Linked DNA regions of Homo sapiens. The protein of the gene in region 2 purifies or fractionates together with the protein of the main gene of each other region. This does not show direct contact. Each region holds a gene or a part of one and is shown on either strand. Other genes may lie near its edges.

The links.
Region 1: the proteins of KANSL2 (region 2) and SETD1B purify together in Homo sapiens (affinity purification with mass spectrometry, with the first as the bait; one large-scale study listed by BioGRID). This does not show direct contact.
Region 3: the proteins of KANSL2 (region 2) and ZNF608 purify together in Homo sapiens (affinity purification with mass spectrometry, with the first as the bait; one large-scale study listed by BioGRID). This does not show direct contact.

What each region holds. Positions count from the first base shown.
Region 1 is NC_000012.12:121,821,003-121,824,655, reverse strand, and holds part of SETD1B (histone-lysine N-methyltransferase SETD1B), read right to left. Parts: intron 2,167-3,653; coding exon 907-2,166; intron 1-906. UniProt on the Homo sapiens protein: Histone methyltransferase that catalyzes methyl group transfer from S-adenosyl-L-methionine to the epsilon-amino group of 'Lys-4' of histone H3 (H3K4) via a non-processive mechanism.
Region 2 is NC_000012.12:48,672,205-48,675,857, reverse strand, and holds part of KANSL2 (KAT8 regulatory NSL complex subunit 2), read left to right. Parts: intron 1-3,653. UniProt on the Homo sapiens protein: Non-catalytic component of the NSL histone acetyltransferase complex, a multiprotein complex that mediates histone H4 acetylation at 'Lys-5'- and 'Lys-8' (H4K5ac and H4K8ac) at transcription start sites and promotes transcription initiation.
Region 3 is NC_000005.10:124,739,987-124,743,639, forward strand, and holds part of ZNF608 (zinc finger protein 608), read right to left. Parts: intron 1,407-3,653; exon of another isoform or gene 1-1,406. UniProt on the Homo sapiens protein: Transcription factor, which represses ZNF609 transcription.

The DNA.
Region 1 (3,653 bases), about 73 Mb from region 2:
TTTTTTTTTGAGACAGAGTCTTGTTCTGTCACCCAGGCTGGAGTGCAGTGGTGCGATCTTGGCTCACTACAACCTGTGCCTCCCGGGTTCAAGCAATTCTCCTGCCTCAGCCTCCAGAGTAGCTGGAATTATAGGCATGTGCTACCACACCCGGCTAATTTTTGTATTTTTAGTAGAAATGGGGTTTTGCCATGTTGGCCAGGCTGGTCTCAAACTTCTGGCCTCGAGTGATCCGTCCGCCTCAGCCTCCCATAGTGCTGGGATTACAGCTGTGAGCCATGGTGCCCGGCACTTGAGCAGAGCTCTTGACACAAACTGAGTGCTCACAAATCAGTCTAATACAGCAGGGATAATGAGAGGTCTAGCCTCACTGGCCTATGTGAACAGCCAAGCCTCATGAAAGCCTGGTGGTGAAGAGCCTGGACTCTAGAGCCAGGTTTGCCTGGGTTCAAATCTCAACTCTGCCACCTGTAGCTGTGTCTTTGGACAGGTCACTGAACCTCTCTGAGCCTTAGCTTCTTCATATGTAAAATGGGAATCATAGCCCCCATCTTCACCAGGCTACCGGGATTACCTGAGGTTATGAAGGGGACAGGACAAGGAGGCCCTGCGCCCGTGTGTGCTGTTAAGCTGCACGGCACTGCTGTTACATGTGACCCTGAGACCTGCTAACTCTGGGGGTGAGATGGGCCTGGCGCAGAGGGAGTCCTTAAAACGTGCCAATGATTCACTCGGGAGCCTGGCATGGTGCCGGGACACAAACCCTGCTTGGGAAGTGACGGTGGTGCATGCTGTCACCTTCATGGGCACCGCGGGCTGCTACAGACTGGGTGGTGGGGCCCAGAGAGGTGAGCAGGGACTTCCTGCATCCCAGAAGGTGCAGAGCCCCCCATGCCAGCAGGATATAGGGATGGTAGACCCAGAGCGTGTCGTTAAGCCAGTCCATGCCATTGTCCTGCTGTAGCAGTCGCTCGTAGGTGACACACAGGAAGCGGATGTCCTCCTCATCGATGCCACCGTTCCAGATGTCATACAGGATGGTCATCTCCTCAAACTCCGAGCGGGGCCGGAAGAGGGGCTGGGGTGGCGAGAGTTCGGGCGAGCCCGCAGGTGGCACCAGGTCCTCATGGCGCTTCTTAGGTGGCCGGCGCCACGGCCCCCGGCTCTTGGCCAACTCCATGTATTCCTCAGTGACCTCATCGCGCCCACGGGGGCCCGGAGGAATGGCCTCGGAGGGCCACTGGTTGTCTAGCTCCTTAAAGGGCAGCTTGGTGGGCTCTACAGGTGGGGGAGGTGGGGGTGGGGGTGGCTGGGGGGGAAGGGGTGGTGGAGGGGCTGGGATCCCCGCGTTCCGGAAGTCCAGGGTCACCGTCCGGGGGTCATGGGTGCTGGGGAAGACGGGGGTCTGTGGCTGGCCCGGCAGGAGCAGGAGTTCCCTTCCAAGGGCGGCCCCTGCTGGTGGTCGGACCAAGGGCCCATCCAAGGAGAGCATAGATGGTGGGGATCGCCGGGGCCGGCCCGGCTTCCTCTTCATTGGGGGAGGGCAAGAGGCCAGGGGGGCGGGCAGCAGGGGTGGCAGCGGGGTGGGCGCACGAGCCTGGGCCCGCAAGACGGCGGGCAATGCCAAGGGCAAGGGCAGGGGAAGGGGCAGAGGGAGGGGCAGGCCCGTCTCCAGGAGCACCGGGGAGGCCAGGGGCCCGGAGCGTTCATCGCGTCGGCCAGTGGGGAGTGGGCAGACGGGCAGGAGCAAGGGCCCGCTGGGCTCGGAGAAGGTGGGTGTGAAGCTGAAGTCCCGGCCAGGTGTCCGAGGGAGGCCCCCACTGCTCAAGCTAGGGGACGGGGCTGGGTAGGAGAAGGGGCTGCCGGGCACTTGCGGAGAGCTCAGGGACAGGCCACTGCTGCCCCCTGATAGCGGGGGCTCCCCGCCTGGTGTGGCTGGCACCGTCTCTGTGCTCTGCGACTTGGCCAGGCTGCCACAGAGGCCTGGAGTATGCGGGGGGTGGTCCTCGGCAAGGGGCTCCGGAGGGACAGATGGGTGTGAGGCATCTGTGGTCTCAGGCTCCGGCGGTGGGCTGGGTGGCCGGGGTGGTCGTGGGGGCGGCAATGGTGGTTGCAGCGGCAAGGGGAGCATCATAGGGGGCTCCGGCTCCACTTCCAGGTCATGTTCTGCAGAGAGGTGAGCGAACACGAGACATTTACTATTCAATCCAAACGTCTCTCAGTGCCTTATTTTGTGCTCCATACCTGGCAGGCTCACAGCCCTGAGTCTGAGCACGGGACCTGTCCTTCTCCAGCTAAACCCCTCAAGGACTCCTCAGCGCCCAACCCAGTGTCAGGCACACAGTATGTGCTTTATCAATGTTGCTAGGCTAAATCACAGATGCAGGAGACATGTATTCCAGCCTTTCATACTACGTCTTCAGAACAAAGTCCCTGTGGCCCAAGAAAATCTGCTCTATGACTGAATAAAATTCAACAAGTCTCTTTTCTGCAGGACTTGTCGGAGCCTTCAAGGATTTTTTTCCTAGCACTTATCTCCACTGTCACAGGATACACTTCTTAATTTTTTAATGAATTTACTTATTTTTTTATTTTTGAGACGGGTGGAATGCAGTGGCATGATCACGGTCACTGCAGCCTAGACCGCCAGGGCTCAAGGGATCCTCCTGCCTAAGGCTCCTGAGTAGGTGGGACTACAGGAATGTGCCACCACGCCCAGCTAATCTTTAAATGTTTTGTAGAGATGGGCTCTATGTTGCCTAGGCTGGTCTTGAACTCCTGGCCTCAAGTGATCCGCCAGCCTTGGCCTCCCAAAGTGCTGGAATTACAGATGTGAGCCACCATGCCCGACCACAGAATACATCTTTTTCATTTTCTATTTTTACATTATTTTATTTTTATTTTTTCGAGACAGTCTCACTCTGTCACCCAGGCTGGAGTGCAATGGCACAATCTCAGCTCACTGCAACCTCCTCCTCCCAGGTTCAAGCAATTCTCCTTCCTCAGCCTCCCAAGCCGCTGGGATTACAGGCACGTGCCACCACGCCCTGCTAATTTTTTGTACTTTTAGTAGAGATGGGGTTTCGTCATGCTGGCCTGGCTGGTCTCAAACTCCTGACCTCAGTTGATCTGCCTACCTCGGCTTCCCACAGTGCTGGGATTACAGGTGTGAGCCACCGCGCCCGGCACATTTCTTTTTCTTTCTTTTTTTTTTTTTTTAAGACAGTCTCACTCTATCGCCCAGGCTGGAGTGCAGTGTGGCACGATCTCGGCTCGCTGCAACCTCTGCCACCCGGGTTCAAGCAATTCTCCTGCCTCAGCCTCCCAAGTAGCTGGGATTACAGGAGCCTGCCACCTGTTTTTCATTTTCTAATTGATCTGTTGTCATCTGTTCCCCTGCTCCGTGGGAGCAGATATTTTTGTCTGTTTGGTCCACTGTTGCATTGCTACTGCCTAAAATAATAGCAGGGACACAATAGAGGCTTAGTATTGAGTCAATGTTCAAAGACTGTGGTTAATGGTGGAATAAACAAAACAAAATACATTACATTAAACAAAACACAGTCGTCCCTCAATACACACAGAGAATTGGTTCTAACACTCCCTGGTATACCTAAATCTGCACATACTCAAAGCTTGTAGTCTGCCTTGCA
Region 2 (3,653 bases):
GCTAATAATAAAACCTTGACTTTAATTTGTGCATACCAGAGCAAGGGGAATTAGTACATAATTTTAATGTCCGGCTCTGAAAGTCTGGCGCATTCATCTTTAAGTAAATGAGCCATCTGTTACATGAACCAGCCGGCATTCATTTAGTAGGTTGCTTACTGCCCCCACCAAATGATTTCTAATAACTTCTAATAGTAATGGCTTCAGATAGGTACATTTCAGTTCCAGACCATTGGTTAAATTCTCTTCTGACAGGGTGCAGTGAAATTAATTTTTTAAAACAATTTTTATTTTTCTCATTTTCAGTATTCAAAAAGTGAATTTCATTTTAACAAACTCTATATTAGGTTAAGGCCTCAGTATTTTAGGTTACAGACAGGTTAATGTAGGCATAACCCATTTTTCTGAAGATGTAACTTAGTCACCTTGTGAAACCGTTATGTATTTATTTTTGAGACGGACTCTCACTCTGTTGCCAGGCTGGAGCGCAGTGGCACGATCTCAGCTCACTGCAACCTTTGCCTCCTGGGTTCAAGCAATTCTTCTGCCTCAGCCTCCCTAGTAGCTGGGACTACAGGCGCACGCCGCTGTGCCCGGCTAATTTCTTTCTTTTTTTTGTATTTTAGTAGAGATGGGGTTTCACCATGTTGCCCAGGCTGGTCTCAAACTCCAGAGCTCAGGCAGTATGCCCACCTCGGTCTCCCAAAGTGCTAGAATTACAGGCTTGAGCCACCGTGCCCAGCCAACTGTTACATATTTTTAAAGCCTTTTCACATTTTCTGATAGTCTGTTAGCTTTTGTCATTTCTGTAATTTGCTGGTTTTATTTTATTTTATTTATTTTTAAATTTATTTTTTATTAATTTTATTTTATTATATATTATTTTTATTTATTTATTTAATTTGTTTATTTTATTTAATTTTTTATTTTTGGAGACAGAGTCTCGTTCTGTCGCCCAGGCTGGAGCGCGGTGGTGCGATCTCGGCTCACTGTAATCTCTGCCTACCAGGTTCAAGTGATTCTCCTGCCTCAGCCTCCCGAGTAGCTGGGATTATAGGTGCTTGCCACCATACCTGGCTAATTTTTGTATTTTTAGTAGAGAGGCTGTTTTGCCATGTTGGCCAGGCTGGTCTCGAACTCCTGACCTCAAGTGATCCACCCACCTTGGCCTTGTGCACCACACCTGGCCCTTTGCTGGTTTTATTAACCATGTTTTGATTTTTCTTAATTTCTTTTCACTTTTACTTCAGAATATAGTTAAGTACCTCTTATACACAGGTAATATTGGCTTTTGTTTATATTTATGAAGAAATTTTGGCAGAAATTACTTGCTCTCAGTCCTAAAGTTAATTTTGTATATTCTGTGTATTTCAGTGCCTTAACAGCTAGTTTTTAAAAATAAAGCAGAGGCTGGCCACAGTGGCTCACGCCTGTAATCCTAGCACTTTGGGAGGCCGAGTCGGGTGGAATGCCTGAACTCAGGAGTTTGAGACCAGCCTGGGAAACATGGTGAAACCCCATCTCTACTAAAAATACAAAAAATAAAAAAATTAGCCAGGTGTGGTGGCACACGCCTGCAATCTCAACTACTGTGGAGGCTGAGGCACGAGAATTGCTTGAACCCGGGAGGCGGAGGTTGCAGTGAGCCAACATTGTGCCACTTCAGTGCAGCCTGGGAAACAGAGCAAGACTCTGTCTTAAAAACGAAAAAGTAATAAAGCATAATTTTTTGACTTAAAATTAGTATAATTTATGTGTTTTGCCTTTTCAATAAAATTTTTACTCAGTATGAAACTTAAGGTATATAGCTTGTTCTTTGTATTTATGTAATGATCAGACGGTGAGTGAAACAAAATTTTTAAAATTCAAAGTTATTCACTTATTTATTTATTTATTTATTTATTTTTGAGACATGGTCTTGCTCTGTCACCCAGGTTGGAGTGCAGTGGCGCCATCTCAGCTCACTGCAGCCTCCCACTCCCAGGCTGAAGTGATCCTTTCACCTCAGTCTCCTGAGTATCTGGGACTACAGGTATACACCACCGTGCCCAGCTAACTTTTGTATTTTTTGTATTGACAGGGTTTTATCATGTTACAGCCCAGGCTGGTCTTGAACTCCCAGGCTCAAGCAATCTGCCTGCCTCGGCCTCCCAAAGTGCTGGGATTACAGGCGTGAGCTATCACACCTGGCCTCATCTCTTAATTTTGATTGCATAAATCAGAGCCAGAGAACAGTCTACCATATATTAATCACTAGCAAAACTTTTAGAAGTTCTTTTTTTTTTTTTTTCTTTTTTTGAGATGGAGTCTTGCTCTGTCACCCAGGCTGGAATGCAGTGGCACGATCTCAGCTCACTGCAACCTCTGCCTCCCGGGTTCAAGCAATTCTCCTGCCCCAGCCTCCCGAGTAGCTGGGATTATAGGCGCCCACCACCATACCTGGTTGATTTTCGTATTTTCAGTAGAGACGGGGTTTCGCCATGTTGGCCAGGCTGGTCTTGAACACCTGACCTCAGGTGATTCGCCTGCCTTGGCCTCCCAAGGTGCTAGGATTACAGGTGTGAGCCACCGTGCCTGGCCAGATATTCTTTTAGTTTATAATTGGCAGCAAAGCTTAATCAAGTTGATATGGATCCGTGCCAGATCTTTGGCAATTAAGGGTTAACCTAGGGTACTGAATTTTGAGAATATTGTCAAGAAAATTAGCTGAGGACAGGGTATAGCCCATTTTGACTAGTTATTTGAGGGTCCATATGAGCTCCAATATAGGCCTATATTTTTTAAACAATTACAAATTTTGGCTGGGCACAGTGGCTCATGCCTGTAATCCCACCACTTTGGGAGGCCGAGGCTGGAAGATCGATCTGAGGTCAGGAGTTAAGACCAGCCTGACCAACATGGAGAAACCCCATCTCTACTGAAAATATAAAAATTAGCTGGGCGTGGTGGTAGGTGCCTGTAATGCCAGCTACTTGGGAGGCTGAGACAGGAGAATCACTTGAACCTGGGAAGCGGAGGTTGCAGTGAGCCAAGGTTGTGCCACTGCACTCCAGCCTGGGTGACAGAGCAAGACTGTCTCAAAAAAAAAAATTATTTGATGTTGGTATCTTTAGTGCTTTAATTAAAATATATTGCCAGGTGCAGTAGCTTATGCGTTTAATTCCAGCACTTTGTGAGGCTGAGGCGGGAGCATCGCTTAAACCCAGGGGTTCAAGCCTGGACAACATGGTGAAATCCCATCTCTACAAAAAATACAAAAATTAACCAAGTGGGGTGGTGCACACCTGTAGTCCCAGCTACTCGGCAGGCTGACGTGGGAGGATCGCTTGAGCCCAGGAAGCAAAGGTTATAGTGAGCTGTGATTGATTGCACCACTGCACTCCATCCTGGGTGACAAGAGTGAGACCTTATCTCAAAAAAAAAATATATATATATATATATATATATACGTATATATATATATACATGTATATATATATACGTATATATACATGTATATATGTATATGTGAAAGATACATGTTAATTGAACACTTTAAAGCTGTCTTGACTGGTAAGTGATGATTTCATATCAAAACATTAAGAATGTAGATTAATAAAAGTTTAAAGTGTTCCGCATGTTCACTTTCTTTTCAACATAATGCAAATAGCTGG
Region 3 (3,653 bases), on a different chromosome or scaffold from region 2:
GCAGCCAAGCAATTTCACTTGAAGAGCATTCTTAACCTCACGACATTTGGACTATCAATCCCTCCCCCCACCGTTTTTTACAGACTATTTGCAAAGTTATTAAAAGTTGCAAAACATTATTTATCTCCTATAGGACAATCTTGATCAGTTATGCATATTCCTTCTCTCTCCAGCAAAGCAAACGGATTTCACACACCAAAGTCAGAATTCAGTGATGGGTCTGATTACACAAATACCTAAGTTCCATGTGTTCTTGGGGAAAGGGCAGCCCCCTCCCTCAAAAAGCCCTGTCACCCTGTGAGGAGGCCTATAGAAAAGTAAGGAGCTGGATCAATGCTGATTTGGACGCCACCCTTAGTTACCAACGTCTTTAACAGCTAAACCTCTTATGTAGCTTTCAAAACAGTTTGCTGTCCGACAACAATGGACTCTGTTCTTTAATTATAGCAAGTGACCCCTCTGCCCTTTTATTTCACAGTAGATACACTACACTCTAGGCAGAATTCATATGGGACACTATATTTGAAAAAAAAAAAAAGCATAATGTCCACAAAACTCATTAATCAAAATATGTTCTTAAACTGCTCACACTCACTTAGAAAATGTGCCAGAATTCCCTGGTGAAGTATAAAAAGGACTCTACAAAAGAATAAAATAAAATGAATGATATCCTTTATGGACAGGTCCATTTGTAGACACCACCTTTATGACCAGGGCCATCTTAATGAAAGCAATATGATATTACAGAAATAATTCTCTTCCCTGAATAGGTATTGAGACACAACTATATGACCTCTTGTGCCTTTCACTTCTGTTTAAGTATCAGCCACTTTTAGGATTTTTGAGTTTTTGTATATATTTTTGAATTTTCCAGAAATCAAATAAACCCATCAACTTTACATATAAACTGTTTATTTATAAAGCCCAGCTGAATGCCTCCCTATCTGATAAGTCAAAACTGTAAGATGGCTAGGAGGATACATAAAGAAGAGCTTCAATACAAGGCTATTATGCTTCACAAGAAAGGAGGGGAAGGTGGAGAGGCAGGTTTTAACAACCAAAAGCCAACCCATCAAATCTACTTATTCAGACATGTCACTGGTGGCTTAACCACAAAATGGGCTACAGAAATATAGCTCAAACATCTTAGAATTATGGCATGTTTTGATTTTGTTCACGTATTAAGGGAGTGGCGACTTTTACAACATACTTGTGGTTTCCACATAAAGGAGTAGAACACTCATTGATTTAATTAGGTTTCATAAGGTCCAATTTATCATGTTTTACATGACTTTGTGTAGTGAAGAAACAGAATAAACAGACCAAAAATAGACATTTAAGCATGCATGCTATGAAAATTAACCGGTGACAGCAAGTCTTATGAATCTCCTGTGAACCTTCCAACCAGAAAAAAAAAAAAAAAAAAAAAAAAATGCACACACACATACACTCCCCCCTTTGGTTTTCACATGTGGCCCCTCACGAGCCACATCTGATTGCTGAAAATTAATAATCTTCACTCTCCAGGCACTTACTCTTCACAAACTCAGATAATCAAGCCAGGCTGAAGGAAATTAAAACACTGTATAAAATGTCAAAAAACCTCAGTGTTGAAATATTTTTTCAGGTGAAGCTTCTGGTCCTACTAAATCTTTACTTTCTAAATAGGTATTCTCACATCAGTAGGAAGCATTTTCTAAATTGATGCCTAATTTGATGCAACCACTAGTTAGTGGAATTAGAGTTACTTTCCTGGGTGGCATTCATGCAAGGGAGTGCCATTTCTGTGTGCCAAGGATGAAAGCATTCTTAAGAGAAGTCATTCTCAGGGTGAAGTGGGGGTGGGGAGGAAAGCCTTAAGGAATAATGTTTGAGATCCTGAGCCAACGCCCAACTTGACAGAGAATGGCCAACACTACAGGATCCAAGCCCCTGGATCCAAGCCTTTGAGGGGCCCCTGTGCCAACTCCAGTGGCTAAGATTGGTGGCACAGCTTCCTCTGGTATAGGATCAGAAGTGAATCTAAATTGCAGTGTGCTTTCTTCCCTCCCCCACCCCAGATCCACCATGACTTGTTTGCTCTTCATTTATGTAATTCATATTTATCACATTTATACTGCTCTAACTGAAGATGAGTTGCATGTATATGAATAATTTAATTCTTCCATTCTTCACCCAGTTTCCTCTGTGACTGGAAAGTGAAAAGAACACACAAAAACTGGAGAAACGACACCACGCTCTAATCTCAGTTGCCATGACAGCAGCCTTTTAGATACTGAAATGTTCCGATTGCCAGCTAAACAAAATTGTTGAATGTGAACATTTGGCTGGAAGATTAAAAGGCTAAGGGGAATGCAAAAGGGCAGTACCTCCCACATTCCAAGCAGCCAGTGAATCCAATCAAATGGCTCTGACTCCTTAACCACAGCCATTGTGAGCACTGGATTAGGGCAATTCATCTAGATAGTTAAAGCAGATTAGAACTGCAATTTGAAGACTATTGGCAACAAAAGTAAATGCCCTACTGTACTAAGTAATAAGAAGATTTCAGAACACCTTTTAGCGGAAATAATGTGAAACTACACATTTAAATATAAGACTCAAAACCCGGAATTTTCAAAAATTCATTTATATTCATTAATGTACCTGACCAAGAGGATATGAATTTATAAGCGTTTGGAGGCATTTTGCAAATTTGGCATTATCTACACCTTAATGTGCCTCTATCAACTTTTAAAAATCAAAACTTTACTCCTATACTCCAACTTAAATCCTGAACACAAAAACAAGAATATAAAAGTTTAAGTAGCAGTGAACCATTTTACACAGAAATAATTCTCCAAAGACATATTATCACCACTTACAATCCCAATCGCCAACTATAGCAAAAAAAAATCAAAATTATTTAATAAGGATGTTCCCCAACAACCATGCCACAACCCACATGACAGAAAGCTTGCTTCTGCAAGGCACAACCTGTAGAATTAATATGAAGATTAATTTCATAGAAATATCACACACACACCCCTAACTCCTTCCCAACCTGCCTAGTGGACAGAACACCTTCTGTTCCCAAACATTAGTCAATGTGGTCTATGACTAAGCAGCAAAACATGGTGTGGGTGTCGGGGCAGGCAGTTCTTCCAAGGCAGTGTCTAACTATAGACTTGTACAAAGAAGGGGAGAAGGGTCCAAATGGTCTAAATCAACCATCCACACCGTTTAAATGCAGCACATAATTCTATATTCCAATTCACTCAACCGTCTACATCCCCTTTGGCTACATTTTCACATTTCACGAGTATCAGTCCAGCAAGTCTGTTTTATTCTTCTTAGCAGCCGTCCAGCTCCCCAGTCAGGTATCCAAGTGATAACACTCTTAAATCTCTAGCTAAGAACTGGGTGAGGGAACAGGGGTAGAGTGCTAACAGCCACCAAAACCATCGAGTTTTTCTGCAGTTATGAAACCAATGACCCAACACATCAAGCTTGGGGTTTCATTCAGGACCAATAACAAGAACTCATTCAAGGATATCCTTTCACAGTACTATTTTGGAGACAGTAAGAAAAAATAAAAGGGATGAGGTCTGTAGAATGTAAATTCGAATCCTCGACATTCCTCTCCAGGGAGGGAACTTGAACCTTGCACCTAA